4 linked regions of the Homo sapiens genome follow. The protein of the gene in region 3 interacts with the protein of the main gene of each other region in a pairwise test. Each region holds a gene or a part of one and is shown on either strand. Other genes may lie near its edges.

The links.
Region 1: the proteins of HEXD (region 3) and RILPL2 interact in a two-hybrid assay, tested with the Homo sapiens proteins (one large-scale study listed by BioGRID and IntAct).
Region 2: the proteins of HEXD (region 3) and GDPD2 interact in a two-hybrid assay, tested with the Homo sapiens proteins (one large-scale study listed by BioGRID and IntAct).
Region 4: the proteins of HEXD (region 3) and PSD interact in a two-hybrid assay, tested with the Homo sapiens proteins (one large-scale study listed by BioGRID and IntAct).

The regions. Positions count from the first base shown.
Region 1 is NC_000012.12:123,413,100-123,419,844, reverse strand, and holds the end of RILPL2 (RILP-like protein 2), read left to right. Parts: intron 1-3,923; coding exon 3,924-3,954; 3' UTR 3,955-4,806; downstream 4,807-6,745. UniProt on the Homo sapiens protein: Involved in cell shape and neuronal morphogenesis, positively regulating the establishment and maintenance of dendritic spines. Plays a role in cellular protein transport, including protein transport away from primary cilia.
Region 2 is NC_000023.11:70,428,147-70,435,818, forward strand, and holds the end of GDPD2 (glycerophosphoinositol inositolphosphodiesterase GDPD2), read left to right. Parts: intron 1-1,346; coding exon 1,347-1,568; intron 1,569-1,768; coding exon 1,769-1,917; intron 1,918-2,827; coding exon of another isoform or gene 2,828-2,980; intron 2,981-4,160; coding exon 4,161-4,308; intron 4,309-4,432; coding exon 4,433-4,515; intron 4,516-4,765; coding exon 4,766-4,794; intron 4,795-4,887; coding exon 4,888-4,940; 3' UTR 4,941-5,235; downstream 5,236-7,672. UniProt on the Homo sapiens protein: Has glycerophosphoinositol inositolphosphodiesterase activity and specifically hydrolyzes glycerophosphoinositol, with no activity for other substrates such as glycerophosphoinositol 4-phosphate, glycerophosphocholine, glycerophosphoethanolamine, and glycerophosphoserine.
Region 3 is NC_000017.11:82,422,272-82,429,943, forward strand, and holds part of HEXD (hexosaminidase D), read left to right. Parts: intron 1-2,122; coding exon 2,123-2,232; intron 2,233-3,053; exon of another isoform or gene 3,054-4,333; intron 4,334-5,104; exon of another isoform or gene 5,105-5,239; intron 5,240-5,758; exon of another isoform or gene 5,759-5,856; intron 5,857-5,981; exon of another isoform or gene 5,982-6,037; coding exon of another isoform or gene 6,038-6,123; intron 6,124-6,286; coding exon 6,287-6,374; intron 6,375-7,162; exon of another isoform or gene 7,163-7,672. UniProt on the Homo sapiens protein: Has hexosaminidase activity. Responsible for the cleavage of the monosaccharides N-acetylglucosamine (GlcNAc) and N-acetylgalactosamine (GalNAc) from cellular substrates. Has a preference for galactosaminide over glucosaminide substrates.
Region 4 is NC_000010.11:102,407,123-102,414,794, reverse strand, and holds part of PSD (PH and SEC7 domain-containing protein 1), read left to right. Parts: intron 1-597; coding exon 598-1,026; intron 1,027-2,219; coding exon 2,220-2,414; intron 2,415-2,567; coding exon 2,568-2,648; intron 2,649-2,975; coding exon 2,976-3,088; intron 3,089-3,678; coding exon 3,679-3,737; intron 3,738-3,847; coding exon 3,848-3,937; intron 3,938-5,517; exon of another isoform or gene 5,518-5,900; intron 5,901-7,528; coding exon 7,529-7,572; intron 7,573-7,672. UniProt on the Homo sapiens protein: Guanine nucleotide exchange factor for ARF6. Induces cytoskeletal remodeling.

The sequences.
Region 1 (6,745 bases), on a different chromosome or scaffold from region 3:
TCCAGCCTGGGCGACAGAATGAGACTGTGTCTGAAAAAAAATAAATAGATAAAAATAAAAATTAAATAAATAAAAATACAAAATTAGCCATGGCCTCTGTAATTTCAGCTACTCGGGAGGCTGAAGTAGAATAATCACTTGAACCTGGGAGGAGGATATTGCAGTGAGCTGAGATCACACCCCTGCACTCCAGCCTGGGCAATAGAGCAAGACTCCATCTCAAAAAAAAAAAAAAAAAGAAAAAAGGGAGTCAATATCCTCTTGATAACCAGAATAGAACTGGAGCAACAGGCAGTTTCAGCCTGGCTGTGGGAAATGCCCAAGGACCTCTCCCTGTCCCACGTGGGACCATTCCTCTTGAATGAGCCGTGTCCCAGCATTGGAACATGCTATGCACTTTCCTCTGAATACTTCCCTCATGTCTGTGCACCAGGGTTGATCCCATAGTTCTTCGGATGCTGCCTCTTATACTAAGAGTGAGGTGCTTGTGTAAAATTCAGATTCTCAGAAATCAAGTCAGTAGGCCGGGCGCAGTAGCTCACACCTGTAATCCCAGCACTTTGGGAGGCCGAGGCGGGCAGATCACAAGGTCAGGATATGGAGACCATCCTGGCTGACCATCCTGGCTAACATGGTGAAACCCCATCTCCACTAAAAATACAAAAAATTAGCCGGGCATGGTAGTGGGCGCCTGTATTCCCAGCTACTCGGGAGGCTGAGGCAGGAGAATGGCGTGAACCCAGCAGGCAGAGCTTGCAGTGAGCCGAGATCGTGCCACTGCACTCCAGCCTGAGTGACAGAGCGAGACTCCGTCTCAAAAAAAAAAAAAGCCGGGCGCAGTGGGTCACACCTATAATCTCAGCACTTTTGGAGGCTGAGGCGGGCAGATCACAAGGTCAGAAGATTGAGACCATCCTGGCCAACATGGTGAAACCCCAAGCCTGTAGTCCCAGCTACTCAAGAGGCTGAGGCAAGAGAATTGCTTGAACCCGGGAGGCAGAGGTTGTAGTGAGCTGAGATTGCGCCACTGCACTCCAGCCTAGCAACAGAGCAAGACTCTGTCTCAAAAAAAAAAAAAAAAAAAAAAAGAAAGAAAAAGAAAAAGAAATCAAGTCAGTGGTTCTTGGATGAAGCTCAGAAATCTGGATTTTTTTCAAAAGTTCCTTGGACCACACTGATATGTGCCCTCTTAGTTGCCAGGTGTCAGGACAGTAGGCTGCAGCTTTCCTGTACTCCATTCATTCAACAAATATTTACTGAGGGTCTGCCATGTGCCAGGCACTGTTGTAGGTGCTGAAGATACAGCAGTGAACAGAACCTAAAGTCTCTGGCTCGTGGACCTTACATTCTAGTAGAGGGAGTCAGAGAGTGAACAGGTAAAGAAATATATTAACAGGACAATTTCAGATAGCTATATGTGCTATGATCACAAATAAGGGGACAGAACGGGAGAGAGAGGACTACTTTAGATTTGGGTTATCTTTTATCACAGCAGTGGGAAAAAAAACACAAGAAAATCGAGTTGGGAAGTCCTGGAAGGCTTCTGTGAGGAGGTGACATTCAAACTGATCACTGAAGTACATTAAAGACCGGAAGGAAGAGCATTCCAGGACAGGAGCAGTGGCTCATGCCTGTAATCCCAGCACTTTGGGAGGCCAAGGCCAGAGGATCGCTTGAGCCCAAGAGTTTGAGACTAGCCTGGGCAACATAGAGAGCTTTTTTGTAGAGACCTCATCTCTACAAAAAAGAATAAAATTAGCCGGGTATGTGCCTGTAGTTCCAGCTACTTGGGAGGATCTCTTGAGCACAAGAGGTCCAGGCTACAGTAGGCCATGGTCACACCACTACACTCCAGCCTGGATGACAGAGCAAGATCCCGTCTCCCACCAAAACAAAAGAGCATTCCTGGTAGACGGGACAGTAAGTGTAAGAGCTTCAGGCTACAGAAATTCCCAGAACAGGCCAGGCACAGTGGCTCACGCCTGTAATCCCAGCACTTTGGGAGGCCAAGGCGGGCAGATCACCTGAGGCCCAGAGTTCGAGACGAACCTGGCCAACATGGAGAAACCCCATCTCTACTAAAAATACAAAATTAGCTGGGCGTGGTGGCGCATGCCTGTAATCCCAGCTACTCAGGAGGCTGAGGCAGGAGAATTGCTTGAACTCTGGTAGGCGGAGGTTGCCGTGAGCCGAGATCGTGCCATTGCACTTGAGCCTGGGCAACCACAGTGAAACTCTGTCTCAAAAAAAAAAAGAAATTTTCAGAACAGAAGACCATGGTGACTGGAACAGGGAAGAGAATGGAGGTGGGATTGGAGAGGTGGGAGGGGCTGGGTCACCCAGGGCCACGTGGATTCTTTCTGGTGCTGACTGTGGGTTTTATTCTAGGTACGTTGGGAAGAGACATTGGATGGTTTTAAGCTGGAGAGTAACATGACCGTATTTATGTACAAAAAGCTCACTCTGGTTGCCTTGTGGAGAAGGGTTGGGAGACAGGGTCAAAGTAAGGCCAATGGGGGTGTTTCTTTTTTCCTTTTTTTTTTTTTGAGATGGGGTCTCACTCTGTCACCCAGGCTGGTGTGCGGTAGCTTGATCTCAGCTCACTGCAACCTCCGCCTCCCAGTTTCAAGCGATCCTCCCACCTCAGCCTCCCGAGTAGCTGGGACCACAGGTGTTCACCATCATGCCCAGCTAATTTTTGTATTTTTGGTAAAGATGGGGTTTCTCCACGTTTCTCAGGCTGGTCTGGAACTCCTGAGCTCAAGCAATCCGCCCGCCTCAGCCTCCCAATGTGCTAGGATTACGGGTGTAAGCCACTGCACCCAGCCTAATGGAAGTGTTTCTTCCACAAGGAAGGGTCTTCTGAGGTAAGATAATGAAAGAGCACCTCCACCCAGGTGTCCGAAGTGAAGGTGTTCATTTAGGACTTTCATTGGCTGTCTTGTTGCAAATCAGGCTTCCAGAAGGCATAAACTACTGGTTTCTTTCAGCGTCCTTCTACGGGAGCTTAGGACACCTAATTGGAGTTTGAGCCTAATAGAGCAAAAGTGAAATGTGTGTTCTGTGCATGAGCTAGCCTGAGGACATGTGGCTAGTGGCTAATGAGCGTGAGGCCACCCTTTCAGGGTCAGATAAACTTAATGAGCTACTAGAATCAATGAGTGAATGAATGAACGAATGAATGTGTTTTTTTGTTTTTGTTTTTGAGACGGAGTCTCAATCTGTCACCCAGGCTGGAGTGCAGTGGCACCATCTTGGCTCACTGCAAGCTCCGCCTCCCGGGTTTATGCCATTCTCCTGCCTCAGCCTCCCGAGGCAGCTGGGACTACAGGCGCCCGCCACCACACCCGGCTAATTTTTTGTATTTTTAGTAGAGACGGGGTTTCACCGTGTGAGCCAGGATGGTCTCGATCTCCTGACCTCATGATCTGCCTGCCTCCGTCTCCCAAAGTGCTGGGATTACAGGCATGAGCCACCGCACCCGGGTTTTTTGGGGTTTTTTTGCTTTTTCTTTTTCTTTTGAGATAGTGTCTTGCTCTGTCGCCCAGGCTGGAGTGCAGTGGCGCAATCTCGGCTCACTGCAACCTCTGCGTCCCGGGTTCAAGCGATTCTCCTGCCTCAGCTTCCTGAGTAGCTGGGATTACAGGTGTATGCCACCACGCCTGGTTAATTTTTTTTTTTTTTTAGAGATGGGGTCTCACTATGCTGCCCAGGCATGTCTGAGACTCCTGGGATCAAGTGATCCTCATCCTCTTGCCTCAGCTTCCCAAAATCATAGGATTACAGGCGTGAGCCACAATGCCTGGCCTGGACATATTTTTGAGTCAACAGCTGCAAGAGCTACTTAGAAATTTTACGGGGGTTGCTGTGCCCCTTGCTTTGTTCCTTCTGCTTACCCTGAACCCTCTCTCTCTCCACACCAGGTTCTTTTTTCGATCGGGGAAACAGACCTAGATCCAAGGCCACAAGTAAGGCTATGGCTCTGATTCTAGAAGACAACCTTCCAAGATGCCTGGCAAAACCACCTCCCTGTGCCACACAGACACACTAGGCCTGTGTATTTATTTCCCCTTCAAAGCAGACTGAGGAGGGAGGAGACGAGGTTCTCTTGGCATCACTTTCTCCCTGGCTGCAGAACTAGACACCCTTGAAGATTTGGCCTGGGCCAGTGAGACTGAAATCAAGAAAAACAGAAGGGATGTGCAGGGTGGGGGGGTCCACTTCCTGCTCCCATGTCAACCCCCAGGGCCTCCAGCGTGCAGACGCGTGTCCTACTCATCTGCTCCCACGGATGACCCTGGTCTTCAATGGTTAGCAGAAGGGAGAAAAGAAAGCAGGAAAATGTGCTATTGAGATTCCAGTGGTGACTTCACTGATATTTAGTGAATATTTGATTTAGCCAACATGCCTTTCTTTATGTGATTTTGTATTAAAGTAAAATGATTTTTATACTTTCTATAGCTTATCTAGAGTGGTCTCTTAGTTACGATGGTACACATGGTATATGTGTGTATATGTCATATATCTACATTTCATTGTATAATGAATCAATTGCATTCATTCAGTCTAAGCGATGCACGATTATCTGGTGTCACTATGAAGGGAAAGATTGCTGCAAACTAAAATGTTAAGAAGCTATCGATTTTAGGACTCATCCTGATTTCAGAGGTGTTAAGATGTGAACAAAATGCATTTAGGAATCAATGAAACAGAGAGCGGGTGTCTGCACTTCGCAAAGGAACTAATGAGGCTGCCGCAACCATTCCGTGAGCCTGTCTTCTTAGTAAATAACAGTGGCTTACTCAATGTGTTTCGCCTGCTCTGTGGATTATCTCATTTGTTCCTCATAACCTGGGGAGATGGGGACCGGTACCGGTGCACCAGTTTATAGATTTTTTTTTTTTTTTTTTTTGAGACGGAGTCTCTCGCTCTGTCGCACAGTCTGGAGTGCAGTGGCACGATCTCGGCTCACTACAAGCTCTGCTGCCTACGTTCACGCCATTCTCTTGCCTCAGCCTCCTGAGTAGCTGGGACTACAGGCACTTGCCACCACACTCGTCTAATTTTTTTGTATTTTTAGTAGAGACAGGGTTTCGCCGTGTTAGCCAGGATGGTCTCGATCTCCTGACCTCGTGATCCACCCGCCTCAGCCTCCCAAAGTGCTGGTGAGAGGTGACAGCGTGCTGGCAGTCCTCACAGCCCTCGCTCGCTCTCGGCGCCTCCTCTGCCTGGGCTCCCACTTTGGCGGCACTTGAGGAGCCCTTCAGCCCACCGCTGCACTGTGGGAGCCCCTTTCTGGGCTGGCCAAGGCCGGAGCCCGCTCCCTCAGCTTGCAGGGAGGTGTGGAGGGAGAGGCGCGAGCGGGAACCGGGGCTGCGCGGGGCGCTTGCGGGCCAGCTGGAGTTCCGGGTGGGCGTGGGCTTGGTGGGCCCCGCACTCGGAGCAGCTGGCGGGCCCTGCCGGCTCCGGGCAATGAGGGGCTTAGCACCCGGGCCAGCGGCTGCTGAGGGTGTGCTGGGTCCCCCAGCAGTGCCAGCCCACCGGCGCTGCGCTCGATTTCTCGCCGGGCCTTAGCTGCCTTCCCGTGGGGCAGGGCTCGGGACCTGCAGCCCGCCATGCCTGAGCCTCCCACCCCCTCCGTGGGCTCCTGTGCGGCCCAAGCCTCCTCCACGAGCCCCACCCCCTGCTCCATGGTGTCCAGTCCCATCAACGACCCAAGGGTTGAGGAGTGCAGGCACAGGGCACGGGACTGGCAGGCAGCTCCATCTGCAGCCCCGGTGCGGGATCCACTGGGTGAAGCCAGCTGGGCTCCTGAGTCTGCTGGGGACGTGGAGAACCTTTGTGTCTAGCTCAGGGATTGTAAATACACCAATCGGCACTCTGTATCTAGCTCAAGGTTTGTGAACACACCAATCAGCACCCTGTGTCTAGCTCAGGGTTTGTGAATGCACCAATCGACATTCTGTATCTAGCTACTCTGGTGGGGCCTTGGAGAACCTTTGTGTCCACACTCTGTATCTAGCTAATCTGGTGGGGACGTGGAGAACCTTTGTGTCTAGATCAGGGATTGTAAACGCACCAATCAGCGCCCTGTCAAAACAGACCACTTGGCTCTACCAATCAGCAGGATGTGGGTGGGGCCAGATAAGAGAATAAAAGCAGGCTGCCCCAGGCAGCAGTGGCAACCCGCTCGGGTTCCTTTCCGCATTGTGGAAGCTTTGTTCTTTTGTTCTTTGCAATAAATCTTACTACTGCTTACTCTTTGGGTCCACACTGCTTTTATGAGCTGTAATACTCACCCCGAAGGTCTGCAGCTTCACTCCTGAAGCTAGGGAGACCAGGAGCCCACCAGGAGGAACGAGCAACTCCAGACGCGCCGCCTTAAGAGCTGTAACACTCACCACGAAGGTCTGCAGCTTCACTCCTGAGCCAGCGAGATCACGAACCCACCAGAAGGAAGAAACTCCGAACACATCTGAACATCAGAAGGAACAAACTCTGGACACGCCACCTTTAAGAACTGTAACACTCACCGCGAGGGTCCGCGGCTTCATTCTTGAAGTCAGTGAGACCAAGAACCCACCAATTCCGGACACACTGGGATTACAGGCGTGAGCCACCGCACCCGGCTTTTTTTTGGGGGGTGGTGGGGACGGAGTCTTGCTCTATCGCCCAGGCTGGAGTGCAGTGGCACCATCTGGGTTCACTGCAATCTCTGCCTCCCAGATTCAAGCGATGCTCCTGC
Region 2 (7,672 bases), on a different chromosome or scaffold from region 3:
CCACTTAATGATTTTTTTACTTTATGATGATTTGAGATTGATATACATTCAGTAGAAACTATACTTAAGAGTACCCATACAACAATTGTTTTTCATTTTCAGTACAATATTCAATACATCACATGAGATATTCAATACTTCATTATAAAATAGGCTTTGTGTTAGATGATTTTTGCCTAACTGTAGGCTAATGTAAGTTCTGAGCACACTTAAGGCAGGCTAGGTTAAGCTAGGATATTCAGTAGGTTAGGTATATTAAATGCATTTTTGATTTTCAATCTTTTCAATTTAAAATGGGTTTATCAAGACACAACTCCATCATAAGTCAAGGTGCATCTGCATACACAAACTCTCTCTCTCTCTCTCTATTTTGCACAGACAGAATCATTACACAGACTCTTTTGCAATTTGCTTCTTTTCCATTTAACTCTTTACATCATATCAGATCAGAGTGATTAACAGCAAAGGATGTCTGGGTTTAAACCCTGGCTATACCACTTACTGGCTGTGTGACCCGAGGCAGGATTTCTTAGTCTCTCTGTGCCTCAATTTTCTCATTTGTACAATGGGAATAATAACAGTACCTACCTTGTAGGGTTATTGGGAGGATTAAATCAGTCAATGCACATAAAGTACTTAGAACACTGCCTGGCACATAGTAAGTACTTAATAAGTGTTAGATAGCTAGCTTTATCCATGTCAGCAATTAGGAAGTGAGGTCATTCATTGAGAATAAGGAGAGGAGAGTAGCAGAGGCTTGGAATAACACTAGGGGGAATGGGAGAGGGAGCAAATCAAGAGCAAGTAAAAGGATTGTTAAGCAGCGCTGAGAGCGAAAAATAAGGACTGCAGTGCCAACAGCCCACATTGTGTACTCTGCCCATGGCAGCGCTCAGCCCCCAGTTCTAGGGGTGGAGGAGGCAGACAATTGTAGAATTGAATCAGAGTCTGGGAGTTGTAGGGCAAGTGGGACAGAAAGGGAGCTGAGAGTGCTATGGAAAAGTAGTTCAAGCTGTGGATGGACCATGGGTAAGGGATGTAGGTGCAGCTAGAAAGGGGCTGATGAACTGGGAAGAAACCAAAGGGTCAAGATTGCAGAGGTCTCCTTGAGACCAAAGAGAAGGTGTAGTGGGAGAGAGAAAGTTAGGAAACTGGAAGGGTAGGAGGTTGAGGTCACAGAGTAAGATGGTAGACGGTCTGGAAGAAGGCCACAGTTTGGAAAAAGGCCCTGGCTCAGAGGTGGAAAGAAGCTGGACACCAAGTGGAAGATATGAGTGAAGATAGTGAGGATGGGGGCAAGGCCTGGAAGCCTCTTCTGGTCTTGAAATAATTGTTCTTTCTTATAGAGGCGACCCTTCTGGGGGGCCAAACCGCTGGCAGGCCCTGATCAGAAAGAGGCTGAGAGTCAGACGGTACCAGCATTAGAAGAGCTATTGGAGGAAGCTGCAGCCCTCAACCTTTCCATCATGTTCGACTTGCGCCGACCCCCACAGAACCACACATACTATGACACTTTTGTGATCCAGACATTGGAGACTGTGCTGAATGCAAGGGTGCCCCAAGCCATGGTGATGTTGCCAGGACCCCCTCTCCCCACCCTGCCTTCCCTAGGCCATGATGATGAGGATGATTTTGAGGCTGCCCCTACCCCCAGGGCCCTGCCCCAGCTCACATACCCCATTCTGTGGTCAAAACTGTTTGCCCCTGTCCCTGCCCTTGGAATCCCTAGGTCTTCCCCAGCTTCACACCCATCCTTCCTGAACCACAGGTCTTTTGGCTACCAGATGAAGATCGGGCTAATGTCCAACGACGGGCACCTGGAATGCGCCAGATATATGGACGTCAGGGAGGCAACAGAACGGAGAGGCCCCAGTTTCTTAACCTCCCCTATCAAGATCTGCCACTATTGGATATCAAGTGAGTGCTAGAGGAAAGGAACCAAGGGGATCACATGAGGCTTAATGGCAGGGAAGAACCAGTTCAGGGAGAGCAAAGCCTCTTGATTCATTCACTCACACAAAAAGTATTTACAGAACACTTGCCATGTATCAGGTAGTATTGCAGGCTTTGGGGAAACAACACAGATAAGACAGACAAGGTTCCTGCTTTTGTGGAATACATGTACTACTGAAGAAAACAGAATAAACCACTTAACAAAATACATGCATATTGAAAAGTGAAAAAGTGTTATGAAGACAAAACAGAGAGATGTAGAAGAGTGGTTAGGTTTGGGAGTGATGGGCTGGGGCAGGGAGGTGGGTGCACCCACATTAGGAAGGCTGGTTAAAGAGGTGATATCTAAGCTGAGACCTGAATGGTCACAGGGAGCTAACTATGAGCTGCAGAACAGGAACAGCAGTCTAATGAGCAAGGGGAAGGGGAAGCTAGAGAAGCAGGCAGGGGCCAAATTGGGTAGGACCTTGTAGGCCACGGGAAGGATTTTATTCCACAACAGACATCAGGGTAAGAGAGCGTGAATCAGGGAGAGTCCCAGATGTGAGCTGAGCCCCAGAAGCTGACCCAGCTGAACCATGACAGACTTCAAAGCATCTGGTTGCTAAAGCCTCTTATAAGGTCCTTGTGTTCAGATAGAAAAATGTGAACTGAATGATAGCCCAGTTATCATACATATTTCTTTTTTTAATTTGAATTTTAATTAAAAAAATTTTTTTTAGAGATAGAGTCTCACTCTGTCACCAAGCCTGTAGTGCAGTGGCCTGATCAGAGCTCACTGCAGCTTTGAACTCCTGGGCTCAAGTGATCCTGAGTAGCTAGGACTATAGGCACACACCACTATGCAAGGCTATTTTTTTTTTTTTTTTTTTAGAGACAGGTTCCTACTACCTGCCCAGGCTGGTCTCAAACTACTGGCCTCAAGCAATCTTCCTGCCTCGGCCTCCCAAAGTGCTGGGATTACAGGCCTGAGCCACTGCCCCCCTCAGCCTCCCGGTTATAAGCATGAGCTATCTCACCTAGCTATGTAAGTATTTATTTCCCCGAGTTATCACCAAAGAGGAAGACATGACATAGGGTTTGGTTCTCACCTTAGTCTTGTCCTGGTCAATATCAGCTGCTAATCAACTGCTGATCATGTTTCCAAAAGATGTGAATTGGTATTGAATACACTGATGATGGAATCGAGGCCCTGAAAGGTCTAGGTGCTGTAAAAAGATAGGCCAAATCTAGCAAGATGAAATGCACCAGGGATAGATGGAAAGACCTCTATTTGGGGCCCAAAAGAATTTCAGTTGCACAAAGACCAGAGAGGAGACACTGGCATCAACAGGAACATGTGTGAAAAAGACCAGGGCTTTCATTGAACAGTATACCTAGTGAGTCATCAGTGGGATGTAACATTGCCGAAGGCTAACCTGACTCTGGACTACCTGAATACAGGCATAGTGCCCAGAGGACAGGAGGAGATAGTTTTGCTCTATTCAAAGGTGACCCAAGCTGGCTGGGCATGGTGGCTCCCACCTGTAATCCCAGCACTTTGGGAGGCCAAGGCAGGAGGTTCACTTGAGCCTAGGAGTTCAAGACTAGCCTGGGCAACATAGCAAAACCCCGTCTCTATAAAATAAAATAAAATAAAAACCAGCTGAACATGGTGGTGCCCACCTATAGTCCCAGCTACACTGGAGGCTGAGCCTAGGAGGTCAAGCTGCAGTGAGCCAAGACTGCCACTGCACTCCAGAGCAAGATCCTGTCTCAAAAAAAAAAAGGCTGGTCCAAGCCCATCTGGGATATTATTTTCAGAGACGGGCCCCATATTTTCAAAGGAACATTGATAAATTGGAATATATCATATTAGAGAGGCTTGTACAGGGAAGGAAATGATAAGAGTAATGGCTGAAGGAGCTGGGGCTGTGGGGCCTAGAGAAGAGAAGGCTCAGGGAGACAGGGCCTCTGCTCAGGACCCAGGGGAGAGACACATTGTGTGGCCCCAGATAGCAAAGCTAGGACCCATGGGTGGAATCCACCAGAAGACAGAGTTCAGCTATGAAAGGAAAATCATTGTTGGTCAGGGGCTGCTATGGAAAGGCAGAGCTGATACCTCCTTGGCAGTGGCACTGTAGATTCAAGCACAGGCAGGGGGCTGCCTCCCATGTCCTGTGCACCATGATTCTGGACATTCCCTATTTTCTTTCCCACCTTCACAGGGCATTGCATAAGGATAATGTCTCGGTGAACCTATTTGTAGTGAACAAGCCCTGGCTCTTCTCTCTGCTTTGGTGTGCAGGGGTGGATTCGGTCACCACCAACGACTGCCAGCTGCTGCAGCAGATGCGTTACCCTATCTGGCTTATTGTAAGGGCTCTGGGACTGTCACCTCTCCTCTTCTCCCATCCCTGGTTTTCCTTAACCCTGTCCCTCTCTTCCTTACTTATTTCCCCTGACATTCTACCCTTGGGGCCTTTTCCTATTTTCACAGACCCCTCAAACCTACCTAATCATATGGGTCATTACCAATTGTGTTTCCACCATGCTGCTTTTGTGGACCTTCCTCCTCCAAAGGTGAGTGCTTTGTGCCTCAGCTTTCTGGGTCCTTACTTTCTCCAGGGCCCTGGTGATGAGGCTGCTTCAGACTCACATATGCTGCCCAAGGCTTGGGGTCTCTTTAGTTCCTTTGAGATTCTTAGGCCCTTCCTTATACTATCAAATTGGCTTGAATGTAGGAAAGGCAGTTGGGGGGAGCAGGTGTGGGGGCTGGAAGGGCCTGCTTGAAGCTAGCTGAACTCATAATGGGAAGCTTTTCTCCCCACAGAAGATTTGTTAAGAAGAGAGGGAAAACTGGTAAGAACTTTCTCCCCTCACCTCATGTTTCTCCTCCTGTAGCTTTCCCCTTGCTTAACTCCCTAGATGACCCACCCTCCCCCTCCTCCCCAGGCTTAGAAACAGCAGTGCTGCTGACAAGGATCAACAATTTCATGATGGAGTGAATGCCCTGCCCTGCTTCCCCACCCAAGCCAGTCTACATTGCCCAAACAGCAAGGGTTGGAGAGTGGCTTAAGTGGAATGCTTCAGGGGTGGTGGGTTGCAAGTGGGGGGAGCTTTGCCAACAGGAGGTTTTGAACCATGAGGGCCCTCTGCCCAGGTGATGGGCATTCCCTAAGCTGCTATGGAATCTGCTCCCTTTGGGGTTTTGACCTGAGATGTTTGGGAAGAGAGTGAGTAATGAGAAGTTTCTCCTCAAATGAAACTAGAACAGAGGAAGTAAAAGGGAGATTGCTCGGATAATGTCTCAGACTTGTGTGCACGTGTTCTTGCATAGAAGGCACAGGGTGTGTCGGGGTGGGATAGCTTGGAAGAGGGACTGAAGGAGATAACGAAATGGTCTTTTCCGGAGAACTGTAAGATGATAGAGACACCATCGCCACTCCACGATGTACTGTCTTCCTCGACCCTTGCAGCTTAGCTGTTTTCCTGCCTAGAGGCTAGGAGCTGAAGAGCCCGTCTAGCCGTGTAATTCTGTGCTTACAGGTGGCTTTTTGCTGTGCGCAGCCTTTTCTTCAAGGCAGGTTGGTTCCTGTATCTTGTCTTAATCTGTTACTCAACGAATGTAATCTCCATTTGGTCACAGCCTAATCTTTTCGGCCCAGGGGCTGGGGAAAGGAGGCACCTTCCATCTACGGTTGGATGGGACACGACCTTGAGGGGCCATCAGGGGGAGATGGGAGGAGGTGGGTTGGAGGTGGGAGGAGAATCACCTGCGGCAATGAAGGACTCGCGGGAGGCTCGCGGGAGGCCCGCAGGAGAGCAGCCACCTCGGGGGCGTCCGGAGGCCGGGCGCGCGGTGCAGGGTTGCACTGTAGCTCCACCTTGTGGCCGCCCCAAGAGGAGGGCCGCATCCGTCGTCGCCGTGACGTATTTGCTGAATGCCACCTGTTTTCCGTGCCGCTTGGGGACTCGTGTCCTTGACTCAGGACTCCGAGGGCAAGGTCCGATTTCCACAAGTTTTCGCTCCTCTGGGCTGCGCGCAGGGTCCAATTTCCGGCCCAGCCTTCCCTTGGAGGAGCAAGTTCCCCAATGTGTTTGCGGCTCGGGAGTCCCTGGGCTCCGCAGCTAAGGTGGCCAGTGCGGAGCTGACGGAGGATGAAGAGTCTAGTAGAAGAAGGGAGGGGCTAAGCCAAAAATGGGGACAAGAGGGGCTCTGTGGTGACCCCACAGTCTTCCGCCACACCCACATTCGACCTAGTTCGTATCTCCACACGGAGGGAAGTAGAACTAAGGAGTCGGCCAGGTAGGGAGGTCGGGTTCTCGGTTCCTCCTCTCTCGCCAGACTGGGACCTGGGGCAGCACTGGCATCCTCGGGACAAGACCCGCCCCCCACCCTCGGTTGCCGGGCAGCCGCGGGAACTACAATTCCCAGTGAGTCCCCGGCCATTTCCGGTATCTGGCTGGACGCAGGCGAGTTTGAATCCGTGTTCCCGCCCCCTTCTCCCGGGCCCACCCCTTTCCTTTCTGGCCGCCCCGCCCTCTCCGTGCGCATCCCTGCACACTCCGGCTCCGGAGGCCGGCCGCGCCCACGTACCTGACCTGCAGCTGGCGCGGTGGGCGGGGGTGCCAGCATGCGACGCACGGGGAGGCTGGAGGCGCGCGGAGAGCGAACGCCGCAATCCGGTCCTGGTCCTGGTCTTCCTGGGAGTCCACGCCGCTGTGTACCGGGCAGGTCTCTCCTACACTCTGCCTTTTCGAGCAGCATTTCCTTACTTTTCCTGGTTCCCGATCCATCCCCTCTCTTTCAGGCTGGCTACCAGCCTTAGCTCTAGGGCCCCCAGTCTGCCCGGTACTGCCGGGCTGTCACCTCTCAGCACGTACCTCCTCCCCCATCCCTACTTTTCTGTCCCTTCCCAATCGCCCAGTCTCTTCCTCCCCTCACCTCCCAACCTCACCCTGAAGACCTCCAGCAACTCCATCCCTGCAGCCCCAACCTCTCAGCTCTCACACTCTCAGCTGCGGCCCTCTAAACCCAGCGTCTGGCCCCCCAACCCAGCGCCAGCCTCTGACCCCTTTCTCCTAGCCCCTAGCCTTGGGTACGCAGCCTTGAGCCTGCCACCGGAAATCCTCACTCTCTTCCCAGGAGAACTGGACAGCTAAAGCGGTTTAACCTATAGGCCCTGGGCCCTGGGCTGGAGACTGACACTGACAAAAACTTAAGGGCGGAGGACCCGGGGGAGCTGCTCATTGGGGTTCGGATGTAGTTGCTCTTCGTTATTTTTAGCTGCTGACTCACAGCTCCTGGCATCCGGGTTTGGGGCTAGCAGGCTGGGCTAGGGGGCTATTAATAGAGCAGGAGCACAGCCCCGACCCAGTTCAGTTTGGAAACACAGAGAGCAAGAAGCGTCCCCTGCCACTATGCCCTGTGGAGATGTGGACTGAGCAGTGGCTGGGCCAGATGCTGTCTGGATGCTAGTTACCTCACCCTGGTATCTCTACCTTGGAACTCTTGAGGGAAACCCCACGAGGAGACTCCTGGGCACAGCTCTCCCCTAAGCTCGCCATGGCTTGGGGCTCTGCCACAATCAAGCTTCTGTTGTACTAGCCGAGAAGGCAGAGATGCGTCCCAAGTGGAAAGATTGTTTTGGTCATGGCCTTGGCCTGCCTGGACCCACTCCTGGGCCAGAATGCTAGGTTACTAGAAGGAAAAGCTATGGATTTCTGGTCCCCCACA
Region 3 (7,672 bases):
TTCATAACAAGATAAAAGATACTCAGAAGATGACGGAAGCTGTGAAAGAACAGCATAAATCAGAAATAGAAAAGCCCAGGCCAGGCTCAGCGGCTCACAACTGTAATCCCACCTACTTGGGAGGCTGAGGCATGAGAATCACCTGAACCTGGGTGGTGGAGGTTGCAGTGAGCCAAGATCGTGCCACTGCACTCCAGCCTGGGCGATAGAGCAAGACTCAGTCTAAAAAAAAAAAAGCCCAGAAATGTGGTAATCAGACAAAAGGAGGTTGTAAAAAATTGCCTGTGGAGCTCAGAAATGAATTATAAGGAAAAAACAATGTTTTTAATGAAGACTAAACTATAAGAAGTGTACAAGTGAGTAGACACCATGGAAAGTGCAGTATTTGGAAACAGATGACAGAAAAGAAAAAAGCAAACAGAGATGAAAAGGCGTTCTGACAAATTGAATATGGCAAAGAAGACTGAACTTACATACAGCTGATGAAGAGGCATTTTGACTTGGGCCAGGCGCGGTGGCTCATGCCTATAATCCCAGCACTTTGGGAGGCTGAGGAGGGTGGATCACCTGAGGTCAGGAGTTCGAGACCAGCCTGACCAACATGGTGAAACCCTGTCTCTATTAAAAATACAAAAATTAGCCAGGCGTGGTGTCAGGTGCCTGTAATCTCAGCTACTCGGGAGACTGAGGCAGGAGAATTGCTTGAACCCGGGAGGCGGAGGTTGTGGTGAGCTGAGATCGTGCCACTGCACTCCATCCTGGGGGACAAGAGCAAAACTCCATCTCAAAAAAAAAAAGAAAGGAAAGGCGTTCTGACAATTGAATATAGGCAAAGAAGATCCAACTTACACACAGCTGGAGTCCCTGTTTCCATCATCTGTTGCTGCGTGACAGATCTCCCCAAACTTGAGGTCCCCATTCATCACCCCTTGTGTTTCTGTGGGTTGGCTGCGTGATTCTGCTTTTCTGACCGAGGTGCCCTCAGGTGGTCACAGCCCCGTAACATCTAGAAACCTCTGATGGTCCGCGTGGCCTTCCATGTCCGGCAGTTCATCCCAACTGTCAGCTGGGGCTCCTTAGTTCTCCTGCATGTGTGTCATCCAGGAGGCCTAGCATGTGCCTGTAGTCCCAGCTCCTTGGAAGGCTGAGGCTGGAGGATCACTTGAGCCCAGGAGTTGGGTGCTGCAGCGAGCCATGATCATGCCAGCACGCTCCAGCCTGGGCAACAGAGTGAGACCCCATCTGTTAAAAAAAAGAGAGAGGCCGGGCACAGTGGCTCACACCTGTAATCCCAGCATTTTGGAAGGCCGAGGGGCAGATTACCTGAGGTCAGGAGTTCGAGACCAGCCTGGCCAACATGGTGAAACCCCGTCTCTACTAAAAATACAAAAATTAGCTGGGCATCGGGGCGGGCGCCTGTAATCCCAGCTACTCGGGAGGCTGGGGCAGGAGAATCGCTTGAACCCGGGAGGCAGAGGTTGCAACGAGCCAAGATCACGCCACTCCACTCCAGCCTGGGCGAGAGAGCGAGACTCCATCTCAAAAAAAAAAAAAAAAGAGAGAAAGACAAGGAAGTGGGGAGGAGAATAAGGGGGAAGGGACCCCATGAGTACAGACCAGGAACGAATGAGTTCTGCACCCCTCTCTCACCTCCCCCAGGTGCTGACCCCAACCCTTCAGAGCCCTGCTCCCCCTGCCCCGGCTCCTCCTGCCCCGTCCCCCATGCCTTGCCATTCTCCTTCAGCCTGGCTGCCCTGTCCCCCATGCCTTGCTGGTGCCCCTCAGCCTGGCTGCCTTGCTGGGCCGCCGTGCATGAAGAGCTGCTTCTTGGTGGCTCCCTGCTGGCCGGACCCGTCCCTCCCAAGCTGAGCCACCAGCGCGTTGAGTAGCAGCCCTGTTTCATAGCATATCTCCCCTTCTGTGCAAAATAGTCACTGGAACGGGGAGTTTCATTTGGCATAACGTAAAGTACACATTCCGGATTTAAGGTTCCCAGGAGAAATAGAAGTAGCAACTCCCACAGTCTCCACAGGCTGAAAGGGAAGGCGTCTCCCTGCTGTGGACTTGCCACATCGTGCTCCAGCAGCCACTTCTTCCTAACCCCTCCCTGTTTACCCCCCAGATTTTTCCTCTGTTCCGTGCGCTAGGTGCAAACGGCCTCCTCATTGAGTATGAAGACATGTTTCCCTACGAGGGCCCTCTGAGGCTGCTGAGGGCCAAGTACGCCTACAGGTAACACTGCCCGTGGCAGGTACAGGGGCGCGGCGTGAAAGCGGGGAAGGGGGGGTTCCGCAGGGCAGGAGGAGCAGCAACCTGGAGGTGCGGGTGGCACAGTCAGGAACTGAACAGTGGTGGGTACATTCCTTTTTTGTCTTTTTAAATTCATCTCTTTAATTGTATGAAAACAAAGTTTCATTTCAAACATTCACTGGAGAGAATTTTGAAACATTTAAAGGGAAAGTAAGCATCAGCAGCGCCCCCTACAGGGAAGAGCTGCAGTTCCTGTCTCTGTCCTGCAGGCGTTTCTTCTGTTGATGGGAGAAGGCTGGACTACAGAAGGTTAGAGAAGGTTAGAGAAGGTTAGAGAAGGCCAGAGAAGGAAGGCCAGAGAAGGCTGGGCTAGAGAAGGCTAGAGAAAGCTGGAGAAGGCTAGAGAAGGCTGGAGAAGGCTGGAGAAGGCTGGACTACAGAAGGTTAGAGAAGGCCAGAGAAGGCTGGGCTAGAGAAGGCCGGAGAAGGCTGGAGGAGGCTAGAGAAGGCTGGAGGAGGCTGGAGGAGGCCAGAGAAGGCTGGAGAAGGCTGGAGAAGGCTGGAGGAGGCTGGGCTAGAGAAGGCCGGAGGAGGCTGGAGGAGGCCAGAGAAGGCTGGAGAAGGCTGGAGGAGGCTAGAGAAGGCTGGAGGAGGCTGGAGGAGGCCGGAGAAGGCTGGAGGAGGCTGGAGGAGGCTGGGCTAGAGAAGGCCGGAGGAGGCTAGAGAAGGCTGGAGAAGGCTGGAGAAGGCTGGGCTAGAGGTTAGAGAAGGCTAGATAAGGTTAGAGAAGGCCAGAGAAGGCTGGGCTAGAGAAGGCTGGAGGAGGCCAGGGAAGGTCAGAGGAGGCTGGAGAAGGCTGGAGGAGGCTGTAGAAGGCTGAGCTAGAGAAGGCTGGAGGATGCTGGAGGAGGCCTCCGCGCAGGGAGGGGCTGCTCTTCAGGCCACAGTTGAGCCTTGAGTTAGAGAAGAGAAGAATTAAAGGGGAGAGAATCAAAATCAATAAAATCAGGTGTGGTGGAGATGGGAGGCCCCTGCTTAATGCTAAAATCACAGGTCTCTGTGAAAATCAATAACGGCCCCAAAGATAAATGCACAATGGACATTAACTGGCCAATCCCAAAGGAAGAAACAAAAAAGGCCAATAAGCATATAAGAAAATGTGAAGGCCAGGAGCAGTGGCTCACGCCTGTAATCCCAGCAATTTGGGAGGCCAAGGTGGGCAGATCACTGGAGCTCAGGAGTTTGAGACCAGCCTGGGTAACATGGTAAAACCCCATCTCTATGTGAAATACAAAAATTAGGCCGGGTGCAGTGGCTCACGCCTATAATCCCAGCACTTTGGGAGGCCGAGGTGGGTGGATCACTTGAGCTCAGGAGTTCGAGACCAGCCTGGGCAACATGGTGAAACCCCATCTCTACATAAAATGCAAAAAATAGCCATGGATAGTGGCATGGGGCTGTAGTCCAAGCTACTCAGGAGGCTGAGATAGGAGGATGGCTTGAGCCTGGTGTTAGGTTTTTTTAAAGGGAAGGCGAGGGTTAAAGAAAGACAGAGAGAGAGAGGGCGTCTCTACAGCAACAGAGGTATAGTGCAGAAACCTACAGAGGGGGGACCAGCTTAATGCCAGAGCCCACCGCCGCTTACAGGCTGGGGTACTTACAGGCCTGGACGGGAGGGGTTTGGGCAGTAGGGCTTCTGCCTGGGAAGATGTTGAGAGATGTTCCCATGATGAGGCAGTTGGGTCCTTGTTCCCAGCAGAATATGATCAGGATGTTCCTTCAGCTGGGCCTTTGCCCAGCAAGGTATGTTCGGGATGTTCCTGGGCCGTGTGGTCGGGTGGTCGGGATGTTCCTGGGCCGTGTGGTCAGGATGTTGGGCAGGATGTTCCTCACAGCCCAAACCCCGTGGAATGTTTCACTTCAACCTGGGTCTGGAAAACAGCAGGGGGCTTACAAAATGGTGCAGTTTGGATTAACACCCAGGACCCAGAGGCTGCAGTGAGCTGAGATGGCGCCACTGCACTCCAACCTGGGCAACAGAGCCAGAGCCTGTCTCAAAAGAAAAGGAAAGAAAGAAAGAAAATGTTAAACCCTCATAGTACTCAAATCAAAGAAACTAAATCAATAATGCAACACCATCCTGGCTACCAAACTGGTAAGCCTTTTTTAAAAATTATAAGACTTGGGCTGGGCGCTGTGGCTCACGCCTGTAATCCCAGCACTTTGGGAGGCTGAGGCAGGCGGATCATGAAGTCAGGAGTTTGAGACCAGCCTGACCAACATGGCAAAATCCTGTCTCTACCAAAAAAAATACAAAAATTAGCTGGGCGTGGCCAGGCGCGGTGGCTTAACGCCTGTAATCCCAGCACTTTGGGAGGCCGAGGCAGGCGGATCACAAGATCAGGAGATCGAGACCATCCTGGCTAACACAGGTGAAACCCCGTCTCTACTAAAAATATAAAAAATTAGCCAGGCATAGTGGTGGGCGCCTGTAGTCCCAGCTACTCGGGAGGCTGAGGCAGGAGAATGGCGGGAACCCAGGAGGCAGAGCTTGCAGTGAGCTGAGATTGCGCCACTGCGCTCCAGCCTGGGCGACAGAGCTAGACTCCGTCTCAAAAAAAAAAAAAAAAAATTAGCTGGGTGTGGTGGTGCGCACCTGTAATCCCAGCTACTCAGGAGGCTGAGGAAGGAGAATTGCATGAACTCAGGAGGCAGAAGTTGCAGTGAGCCGAGATCGCGCCACTGCACTCCAGCCTGGGTGACAGAGCAAGACTCTGTCTCAAAATAATAATAAATAAAATAAATGAAAAATTGTAAAGACTGTGTTGATGAGAATGAGAAAGAGGAAAACTACCTGCTGATGAACATAATATGACATCTGTTCTGGAAGGACTTCGGTTCCATGTGTCAAAACTCCAAAATGCCTGCACCCCATGCAGCCCACATGTGGTTAGACCAGAAGTGATGAACGGTGAGCCAGGGTGTTGGCCTGCAATGAGATAATCAGGTGCGATGAGATGATCAGGTGCGATGAGATGATCAAGTGCGATGACATGATCAGGGGTTTGCATTTTCTTCATACTCTTCTAGTTTTCTTCCTACAGTGAAGACATTTTGTCTTTTGATGTGAAAAAGTAAAGTACCAGGGTTCCTTCGAAGCTTGAAACAGGAATGTTTAAAGACTTTATGTAACTCATAAATCTATAGAACGGATTAGCCTAAGATGGTTCAAACACATACAAAAACTAGAAATAGCTTTTTTTTAGATAAATTCATAAATGACAGCTCATGTAAAGCTTGTGAAAAACGAAGAGGTCGACCCGGGGCAGTCAGCCCTTCCCAGGATGTGGCCCTTCTGCAGAGGACGGGCGCCCCAGGATTGTTTCAGGTTGAGGACCCTGTGGTGGACCTGCCCTCGGGCAGCTGCTGACCCGGCTCTGGATGGAGTGTGGCACCTTCTGTAGCATTTTTATTTTTTTTTGAGACAGAGTCTTGTTCTGTCTCCCAGGCTGGAGTGCAGTGGTGCGATCTTGGCTCACCGCGAACTCTGCCTCCCGGGTTCAAGTGATTCTCCTGCCTCAGCCTCCCGAGTAGCTGGGATTACAGGTACATACCACCAGGCCTGGCTAATTTTTGTATTTTTAGTAGATACGGGGTTTCATCATGTTGGCCAGGCTGGTCTCGAACTCCTGACCTCAAGTGGTCTGCTGGCCTTGGACTCCCAAAGTGCTGAGATTACAGGCGTGAGCCACTGTGCCTGGCCTTGAGTAGTTTCTTGTAAAATGTGATGACTTCATTCTCTTGTCGTGGGTTGAAAAGCGAACCATTACTTGAGGACGTGCTAGAACATCATCTTCCCAAATTTTGGAGCAGGTACCTTTCCAGAAATCAGGATACCTGTCAAGCTTTGTGGAGTTTAGGGCCTTACTGTTTCCCGGAGAGCCCCCCAGGGCCTGATGAGGAAGGGCTGGGGGGGTGGGTGTGGAAGTCACGTGCTGCTCACATGACCCTCTCTCTATGAATTTTGTCTCTCCAGCCCCTCTGAAATCAAAGAGATCTTGCATCTGGCTGGACTCAATGAGCTGGAGGTGATTCCCTTGGTGCAGACATTTGGACACATGGAGGTGAGTGGCAGAAATGGAAGTTACCTGGTGCCAGGTGTGGGGTCCAGGGGCTGCAGGCTGGGCCAGGCTTGTGCCCAGGGGTGGGTGCAGCGGGCCCATGGTTGGGGTGCAGGCAGCGCAGCTCAGCACAACATGGAAAGGCCTTTGGTCTAGGAAGTCCCTGCCTGACTCGGCCAGAGCTGCAGGTTGGGGCTGCCTGTCTGCCTGAGGAATGGAAGGAAAGAGCCAGAAAAGGGGTCCTGGAGGCAGTTTCCTTTTTCACTTGTATTCATCAGAATATTATTATGTGAGGTAAAACACAGTATTAGGGAAAGAAAAGGTGCTTTTCAGGCCAGGTGCGGTGGCTCACACCAGTAGTAATCCCAGCACTTTGGGAGGCCGAGGCTGGTGGATCACCTGAGGTCAGGAGTTCGAGACCAGCCTGACCAACATGGCGAAACCCCGTCTCTACTAAAAATACAAAAATTAGCCAGGCATGGTGGCGGGCACCTGTAGTCCCAGCTGCTCGGGAGGCTGGGGCAGGAGAATCACTTGAACGCAGGAGGCAGAGGTTGCCATGAGCCAAGATCGCACCACTGCACTCCAGCCTGGGTGACAGAGCAAGACTCCGTCTCAAAAAATATATATATACACATATTCTTTTTCCTGTCTGCATCAAACAGGAAGTGATGCGGCATTAACCACCACACCGATTTAATGGCTCTTAGGTTCCATTTATTTCTCTAACAGATACACCATTCTGGCTTCTATTTCCACACACCGCGGGTAAGAAGGTTGTTTTCACTTACACATGTCGGTGTTCTGGGCGTGCCACCGGAGTTCCTTCCCACAGCTCGGTCCTCCAGCCTTTCTAGTTGATTCTCTCCATCGTACTCTGCTCTGGGACCCGGCCTGCGCTCTTAGCCTCCTGCCACGTATCCACAGAATGTCTCTGCCAAGGCCGCCAGGGTCCTCCAGGTCACTAAGTCCAGGGACGGTTTTAGTCCTTTCCTGCTGGGCCCCTCGGTAGCTTCTGGCATCCCCAGCCGCTCTCCTGAGCCCCACACTTTCTGGCTTCCCTCTGCCTCTGACTGCACCTCCTCGATATCCATTTGCATTTGTCTCTCTGTAGCTGGCGGTCCCCAGGGCTCCTCTCGGTCCCTGTCCCCACCTCCCACTCTCTCTCTAGATGGTGCCATTTCTGCTCCTGCTTTCTCTTTGTCCTCCTCTTCGTCTTCCTCTTCCTCTTCTGTCTGCACCTCAGCAACTCCAGACCTCCTGGGTTACAGACCCTCATCCCCAGCTGCCTGCTGGTCGCT
Region 4 (7,672 bases), on a different chromosome or scaffold from region 3:
CAGAGCCGGGCTCAAAGGGCCTGGGATAGAGATGGGTGTGGGGCTGGCGGGGCAGTGTGTATAGCAGGAGATTCTAGACAGAGGCCTGAGGCTTGGCAGAACACTGGGGATGTGGGGAGCAAAGAGGCCAGGGGTTCTAGCAGAACAGGGGGCAGGGTGAGAGGCCAGAGGCCACAGTCAAGCCCAGGAACACAGGAGCATGAGTCTGGATCCTGGATCCTGGTGGGAGAGTGGGGAGTGTGGGGACATTCCTTTCCGTCTCACACCCCAGTGTCGCTTGGAGCCTCATCTTCTCCTAAGATGTTGCTAGAAATAGAAATGGGATGGCAGAAGGGAAGCGGATCACGGAAAAGGAGGAGAAAGGGAGATTAGCAGGGAGGGAGGGGATGGGGTGCTGGGGACTGGTAGGGCTGGTGTGCCCCAGGGGGCACTGAATAGCTTGGCGCCCTACCCTAGAGGCTCTTTTTTGTTAGTGGGCTGGAGCCAGTGAAAAGGGGATGATAATCCCCTTAGCAGAGTCAGTGTGAGAGTTCAGTGAAATCCTGCCCCAGCCCTGTGATCTGGGCCCCTAATCAGAGATTCTCCCTGCCCCTGCAGGCCAGGGAGCCGGATGCCTCTCAAGTCACCTGTGCCCTTTCTACCTGGGACGAGCCCCTCGGCTGATGGGCCTGACTCTTTCAGTTGTGTGTTCGAAGCCATCCTGGAGTCACACCGGGCCAAAGGCACCTCCTATACCAGCCTCGCCTCGCTGGAGGCCTTGGCCTCACCTGGCCCAACCCAGAGCCCCTTCTTCACCTTTGAGCTGCCTCCCCAACCCCCTGCACCCCGGCCCGACCCACCAGCTCCCGCCCCACTTGCCCCTCTTGAACCGGATTCTGGTACCAGCTCTGCTGCTGATGGTCCTTGGACACAGAGAGGGGAGGAGGAGGAGGCAGAGGCCAGAGCCAAGCTGGCCCCAGGGAGGGAGCCCCCTAGTCCCTGCCACTCAGAGGACAGCCTTGGGCTGGGGGCAGCACCCCTTGGCAGGTAAGTAATTCCTTTTGTCCCTCAGACTTGAGGCCCCCAGGGCTCCAGAAACAGCTGCTGTAAGGGACAGATCCTGAGTGTGAGGATTGGTTTATATTCCTGACCCCTGAGTAGGGGTGGTTAAGGGATGCAGATCCTGTTTTCCTATTTGGAGGACTACTGCCATTAGCTGTGAGGGAGAGTCCCTCACAGCACCCCTCTTGGTCTCAAGTCCAGTGGCTTGAGAAAGCATGATTCAGCATTGAAGGATCCCAGGAGAATACCCTTCTTGCTCTCCTGGAGGGCCCTTTCTTCCCTTGGCAGAGTCTTTAGCCTGCTCAGAATTCTTGTGACCTTACCCTCACCCAGCCTGAAGGCTTCACCAAAGATGCAGCCACCAGCCTCTCCCACTGCCTCCCTCCCATGTCACCCCTGCCTAATCAGGCATCTCTCGTCCAGCTCCAGGAAGTCCTTTCACAGTCTAACCTTTCTGCTCTCCCCTCTGCCAGCTACCCTCTCAGTCATGGAAGCCATGGCAACAGGAGGGGGTGGCCAGGGAGACCGGGTTGCCTAGCAACCAGGAGTTTCCGGCCTCTGTCTCTGGGCTGACAGGTGGCTTTGCGAGTAGAGCAGCTGGGGTGGGAAGGGGAGGAAAGAAAGGGAATGAGGGTATGCACCCCGACCCTTAACCCCCTAACTCCAGAGCCTGCTTCTGTGTGGGCAGAGGGGGAGCACCAAGGAGAGGTTCCTCTCCCTAAAAAGCAGGAGGGGGAAAGCCTTCGGACCAGTATCCCTGCTGCCCTCAAATCTTTCCCTGGCCCTCCACAGTTCCTCCGTGGTAGCCCATCTATTCCAGCTTTGTCCATAGTCTAAGAGACAAAGGACTATGTTCTGTGTAGGGCCAGGGTGGGAACAGATAATCTATGTCTAATAGCAAATGTAGGCCCCTGGGAGCTTGAGGAAGCAGCCAGAACTCCCACAGCAGCAAGACGGATGTGGGTTAGATTTGAGGCAGGACTTCCACAGAGAGGTGGTAATGATGGAGTAGGCTGATGGAGAGAATCTAATCTCCTTCCCTGGAAAAAAGAAGAATGCTTTCCCCATGTCCCTCCACTCCCTCCCCTTCTCCATCTTCTGGGCCTGGAGGCAGAAGGAGGGTCTGGATGGCTCCTAAGGACCCTGCCCCAGCCTGAGCTGGTGTTCTACCCCGGCAGCGAACCACCCCTGAGCCAGCTGGTGTCCGACTCAGACTCAGAGCTGGACAGCACAGAGCGGCTGGCCCTGGGAAGCACAGACACCTTGTCCAATGGGCAGAAAGCGGACCTGGAGGCTGCGCAGCGCCTGGCCAAGAGGCTGTACCGACTAGATGGCTTCAGGAAGGCCGATGTGGCCCGGCACCTGGGCAAGAAGTAAAGCCACTAGGCTGGGACTGAGGATGGGGGCAGAGGGAATGCATCCTGAAGGCAGCTCTCCATCTAATGTCCCCTGGTCATTGGGTAATCCCCACCTGACCCCCTGCACTTCCCCTTGAGACCCTACCTGTCTCTCTGCCCTGCCCACAGCAATGACTTCAGCAAACTGGTGGCTGGGGAGTACCTCAAGTTCTTTGTCTTCACGGGCATGACTCTGGACCAAGCTCTCAGGTGGGTGTTGACCCCTTGGAGGACAGCCCCCACTCTCCGGGGTTCGTGTTAGGGCCCCAGGATGCCTCCTTTGAGCCCCTCTGTCCCCCACAAGCCGTCCTGACATCACCCTTCCCAAGATGGCTGGGCATGGCCAAGGGCCAGAGCTGCCTGGTAAAGGGACCTTGGGTAGGGGTGATGGGTGGAGGGTCAGGGTGCATACCCTCATCCCCTTTCTCTCCTCCCCTTCCCACCCCAGCTGCTGTACTCTCAAAGCCTCCTGTCACCCCAGAGACAGAGGCTGGAAACTCCTGGTTGCTAGGCAACCCTCTCTTGCCCCTTCTCCAGGGTGTTTCTGAAGGAGCTGGCCTTAATGGGTGAGACCCAGGAACGAGAGCGCGTGCTGGCCCACTTCTCCCAGCGATACTTCCAGTGCAATCCTGAAGCCCTGTCCTCAGAGGGTGAGGAGTTCCGAGAGCAGGGGTGTCCTTAGCTGGCCACAGTGGCAAAATGGGCTGGGCCCTGTGTGTGTGTACAGGAGCATGAGTGTGTGTACAGCAGGGAATGGATGTACATGCGTGTAGGCATGTGAACTTGCATGTGTGCAGACAGCGCTGTCATGGCTGCATGTATGTGGAACTATACATGTGGGCAGGCATATTGCTAGGGTTGAGTGTGTTGTGAAGAGGCAGGAGTTTGCATGCCTGTGCAGGCCAGTGCTTGGCTGGAGAGGGGATTCTGTTTGGCTGCACTGGTCTACAGGACTGTGCTGCGGTTCACTTTCTCGTGGTCCAGGCTTAGAGGCAAGGGAACGTTGGGGCAACTAGTACGTTGGGGCAACTAGCCCTCAGTACTTGAGGGAGCCAGGGACGGGTCCTTGCTGACGGATCTGCTGGAAGAGGAGCTCTTTGTGGGGAGGGTTTACTAGCGGGGTTCAGGAGGTAGGAAGTTGCCGGCCAAAGGGGGTGGGGATGAAATGGGAGGTTGGGGAAGATGGCTGTGGGAAGGGTCCCTGGGAGGCAGCCAAGGCTGAAAGTCAGCTCTCCCCTAGACGGCGCCCACACGCTGACCTGTGCGCTCATGCTGCTCAACACGGATCTCCACGGCCATGTGAGTGGAGGCGGGCGGGCAGGAGCCGGAAAACAAACCCCTGGCCAGACATGCAGGACCTGGGAGGCCAAGGGCCCTCCAAACTCACAGGCCTCCGTTCCCTTCCTTAGAACATCGGGAAGCGCATGACCTGCGGGGACTTCATCGGGAACCTGGAGGGCCTCAATGATGGCGGCGACTTCCCTAGGGAGCTGCTCAAGGTGGGGGGCGGGGCAGGGTAGAAGTCGCTGGAGGGGAAGGATGGAGGACCCAGTCGGCGACGGAGTCCAGAGTCGGAGGGAGGGCAGGGCTGGGGCTTGCCGACCCCCGGCTCCTGCCACGGAAGCCCGGGCTCTCGTGACTCAGCCTGGGGACCGCCCCCTCCCCAGGCCCCACGCGCAGGCTCTCCCGGAACATGCGCACATGCGTGCGGTCGCGACTGCGCACGGCGGGGGAGGGGACCCGGCTCTGGAAAACGCGAGCAGGCGGCCCCGGCCCCTGCGTTTGCCTTCAGTTCCCCTCCTCCAGTGTGCGCTGGGGTGGAAGGCGGGAGTTGCGGGGGTCCCTGCACGGGACAGGGATTGGATGGGGGTACACTCCACACTGCTCCCCCGCCGCGTGGACAGCCAAAAAGACCTTCCCGGTGCTGCTGCGCTGCAGGAACCCGGAGGGAGAGGGGCCTGAGAGGGACTAAGCTTTTCCAAGGTCTGGCAGCGAGTTAGCGCAAAGCTGGAGCTAGAAACTGCTTTCTGGCTCCCTGTGAGCAGGTCCCGTTCCCAGGCGCCAGCTCCATGGCCCGCAACCGAGGGCTCAGATACGTAGGGGCTGGTGCCGGTAGGAGAAGGGAGTGGCTCATCCAGTGGGTTCACTCCTCTCCCTGATCTGGTGGTAGTTTATCTAGAGAGGCCTGGACTCACTTGAAGAAACCCCCAGGCTAGGACAAAGGTGTCTCTGCTCCACTACATACATGTAACAGCACAGGATTGTCCTAGGGCGTTTCTGTGAGCTTGGGGTGCTGGGCTTCTGAGTTTGGGGTATATCTGAGAGGGAACGTCCATGGTGAGCTGGGGTGTTGCTTGAGTTGAGTTGCATCTGTGTGCCCGGGCGTCGTGAATCAAGGGTTTGTATGGCTTGGTGTGTTTGTGCTTTAGGGCTTACGATTCAGAGTGTGTGTTTGAGTTGGGGTGTAGGCTGGATGTTTATGTGTGGTGGGGTTTACATCTTCGAATTGGCCGTGTCTGAGGTATGCCATATGCCTCTGAGTAGGGGGTGTATCTTTGTGAGCTAAAGATTCTAAGTTTTGAAGTGTCCATCTGAATGGGTAGTGTCTGCGAGTTGGGGTGACCGTGAACTGGTGCGTCTGGTTTGTTGGGGTGTATGTCAGAATCGAGGTGTGTTACGTGACTTCAGATCTATATATGGGTGGGGTATCTGCGGGTGAGCTGGATGAGGCCAGGGCTGTTCCTTCCCTGCCTCCGTCCTCCCTCGAGGCCCCTCTTGGCTCAGTGGAAAAGGGCTGCAGGGAAGCGGTCCGACCTCTCCCCTCCCACCACCCCAACCCAGACCAGCCAGAAGGGAGTTCCAGACCCTGCCGGGTCCGCCCAGCGTCACAGCCCCAGGCCTAGCGGTGCTCTCAGCCTCCCTGGAGCTGCCACCCACGCTGGCCTCCCCAGGCTCCTCCCCGTGGCCGCGCGGGGAGGGCCCCCTTCGCGATCGGGCGCCTCCATTTCATGCGGTCCCCGCCCCCAGCCCTCGCCCTCCCTTTCCCGTCGGCGCCCCCCTCCCGCTCTAGCCAAGCCGCAGAGCAGACAGCGCCGCCGCCGCCGCCGCGCACTCCGTGCGTCCGTGAGAGCCGGGCCGGCTCGGGCCGGGCCGCGCCGCTCGCGCTGGCTGTCGGGGGAGCGGTCCGCGGGCCGTCCGGGCGGCCCGGGGGCCGAGGGCGGACGGGGGCATGGCCGGGGGCCGCGGCGCGCCGGCCGGGCCAGCATGATCGGCGTCAACAGCATCCACAGCAGCGCCGGGCGGCTGCGCTCGCGCTCGCTGTGCTCCGTGCGCTACGGGCGCACCCACCGCGGCGCGGAGACCCTGTGCTACGGCTGGCCGCAGCGCTCGCGCAGCCTCAAGCCCGTGCTCTACACCGACCTGGTGGTCAGCCGCCTGCAGAGCCGCAAGAAGAAAAAGGCGGTGAGGGCGTTGGGGCCGCGGCCCACGCCAGGTTGCGGGGCGACCGAGGGGGCGGCTTGTGGGAGGCACCGAGGGCGGTGCCAACCGAGGGCGGAGCCTGGTAGGGACAGAGGTCATGGGCAGCCAGAGGCGGGCACGGGCTGGGGGGGCAGGGAGGGCACAGACCCTGGGGCCAAGGTGGGCCTCAAAAACCGAAGAGGCTTTTCTAGATTGAATATGACTTGCGGCCCACCGATGGGGTTCAGGGCCCTCGAATGAGGTGTGATGGTGGGCCGAAGGGGGTCCTGAGACAGGGCAGGGGATGAACTAGAAGGCGGGAGGCAAGGATTGCAGGTTGGATCTTGGTGGCCACTTCCGCTTTCTGGCCAGAGAGTTGCGGAGTGAGGGTTAAGGGTCTGAGCCATGCTGGGTTTCGTCTGGGTGTGTGCTGGAAGGTCTATGTGTTGATTTGCCTTGGTTGTGCTGGGGGCGGTGGAGTGGGGGTTGGAGGCTGTGGGGTACACCCATCCCCAGATAGGGTGTGAACAGTGTGTGCCCAGTTGGGATGCCTGGTTTGCCTTGTGGCTGGGCATGGCTGTGGGCAGTGAGAGAGTCAGAGACTGTGGTTTGTTGGGAGGAGTGAAGGGGAGGCTGTGTCCCATCACAGGGAAGGTGCCTACGTCACCACTGCACCCAGCTCACATGCAGGCAGCATCACACGCCACACACTTAGCCCAACATGCACATGCTGGGGACACACCCACTCACGGACAGGCTGACGGAAGTACCCCACAGTTGGAGGTGCTGGCGTGGACCCATATTCCAGACCACTCTGGAGAAGAGGGGACCCCATGCCACTCCTGGAGCCTATTCTCTCTTCTGACCACCCCAGGACCCCCAAATGTCCCCAGGCCAACTGCACAGAGGGGAAGTGGCTGGTTCACATCGCACAGAGTTTGGGCTATGCAGGGATTGGAAGCTAAAACCACTGCTTTTTAGAGGAGTGTTCACTCTCCAGTGACAAAGTGTGCACGTGGGCAGGGCGTTGGACCACCCTGGCATTTGGCTTGGTGGGGCTGTCAGGGTTAGGGGGAGGCCTCAGCTTGTCTTGGTGTTGGGAGCCATGATAGTGTATTCTCTATTAGGGAAGGAAAGTGCTGAGAGGGCGAGTCCCCTATCCTGGGGTCGCAGTTTCCCCATATGCTATGTGTGGGCTCATCCTGTGGAAACAGGCCAGAGCGCGTGGTTGGGGGAAGGGGAATTTCTTGGGCTGCTTTTCCCGTTCCCTCCAGGGCTGTGCTTCTCCAGCCCAGGATCTGAGCAGGACAGCCCCTTAACAACAATAAAGATAATAATAGCAACAACCATTTACTGTGCGTCAGCCTTGTGCTGGGATGCCCTGTGCTAACTGCCTGTGCCCACATGTTACTACGTTTGTTCCTCTCCATGGATACTTGCCCGAAGTCATGCAGCTCAGGTGGTGGAGCCGGGTCTGGGTCTCCATTCTGGAGCCTGTATTTTTGGTCATTATATCTTGCTGCCCTTTCCCCTTAGTTCTGGCTCATCTCTCAAGTTAGAGGGGAAGGCTCTAAGCTCTGACACTGCGGTACTGACCCACAACCCCCTAATTTGTTCCCCCCACCCCCCAGGCCTTGTACAGCTCCATCAAGAATGAGAAGCTGCAGTGGGCCATGTGAGTCCCGGGGCTGCGTGGTGGGGCTAGGATGGGGCATGGGGAAGGGGCTGCCTGGGGAGGCTGAGAGAGCTGGGGTAGGCCCTGGGTGGGGGTAGGG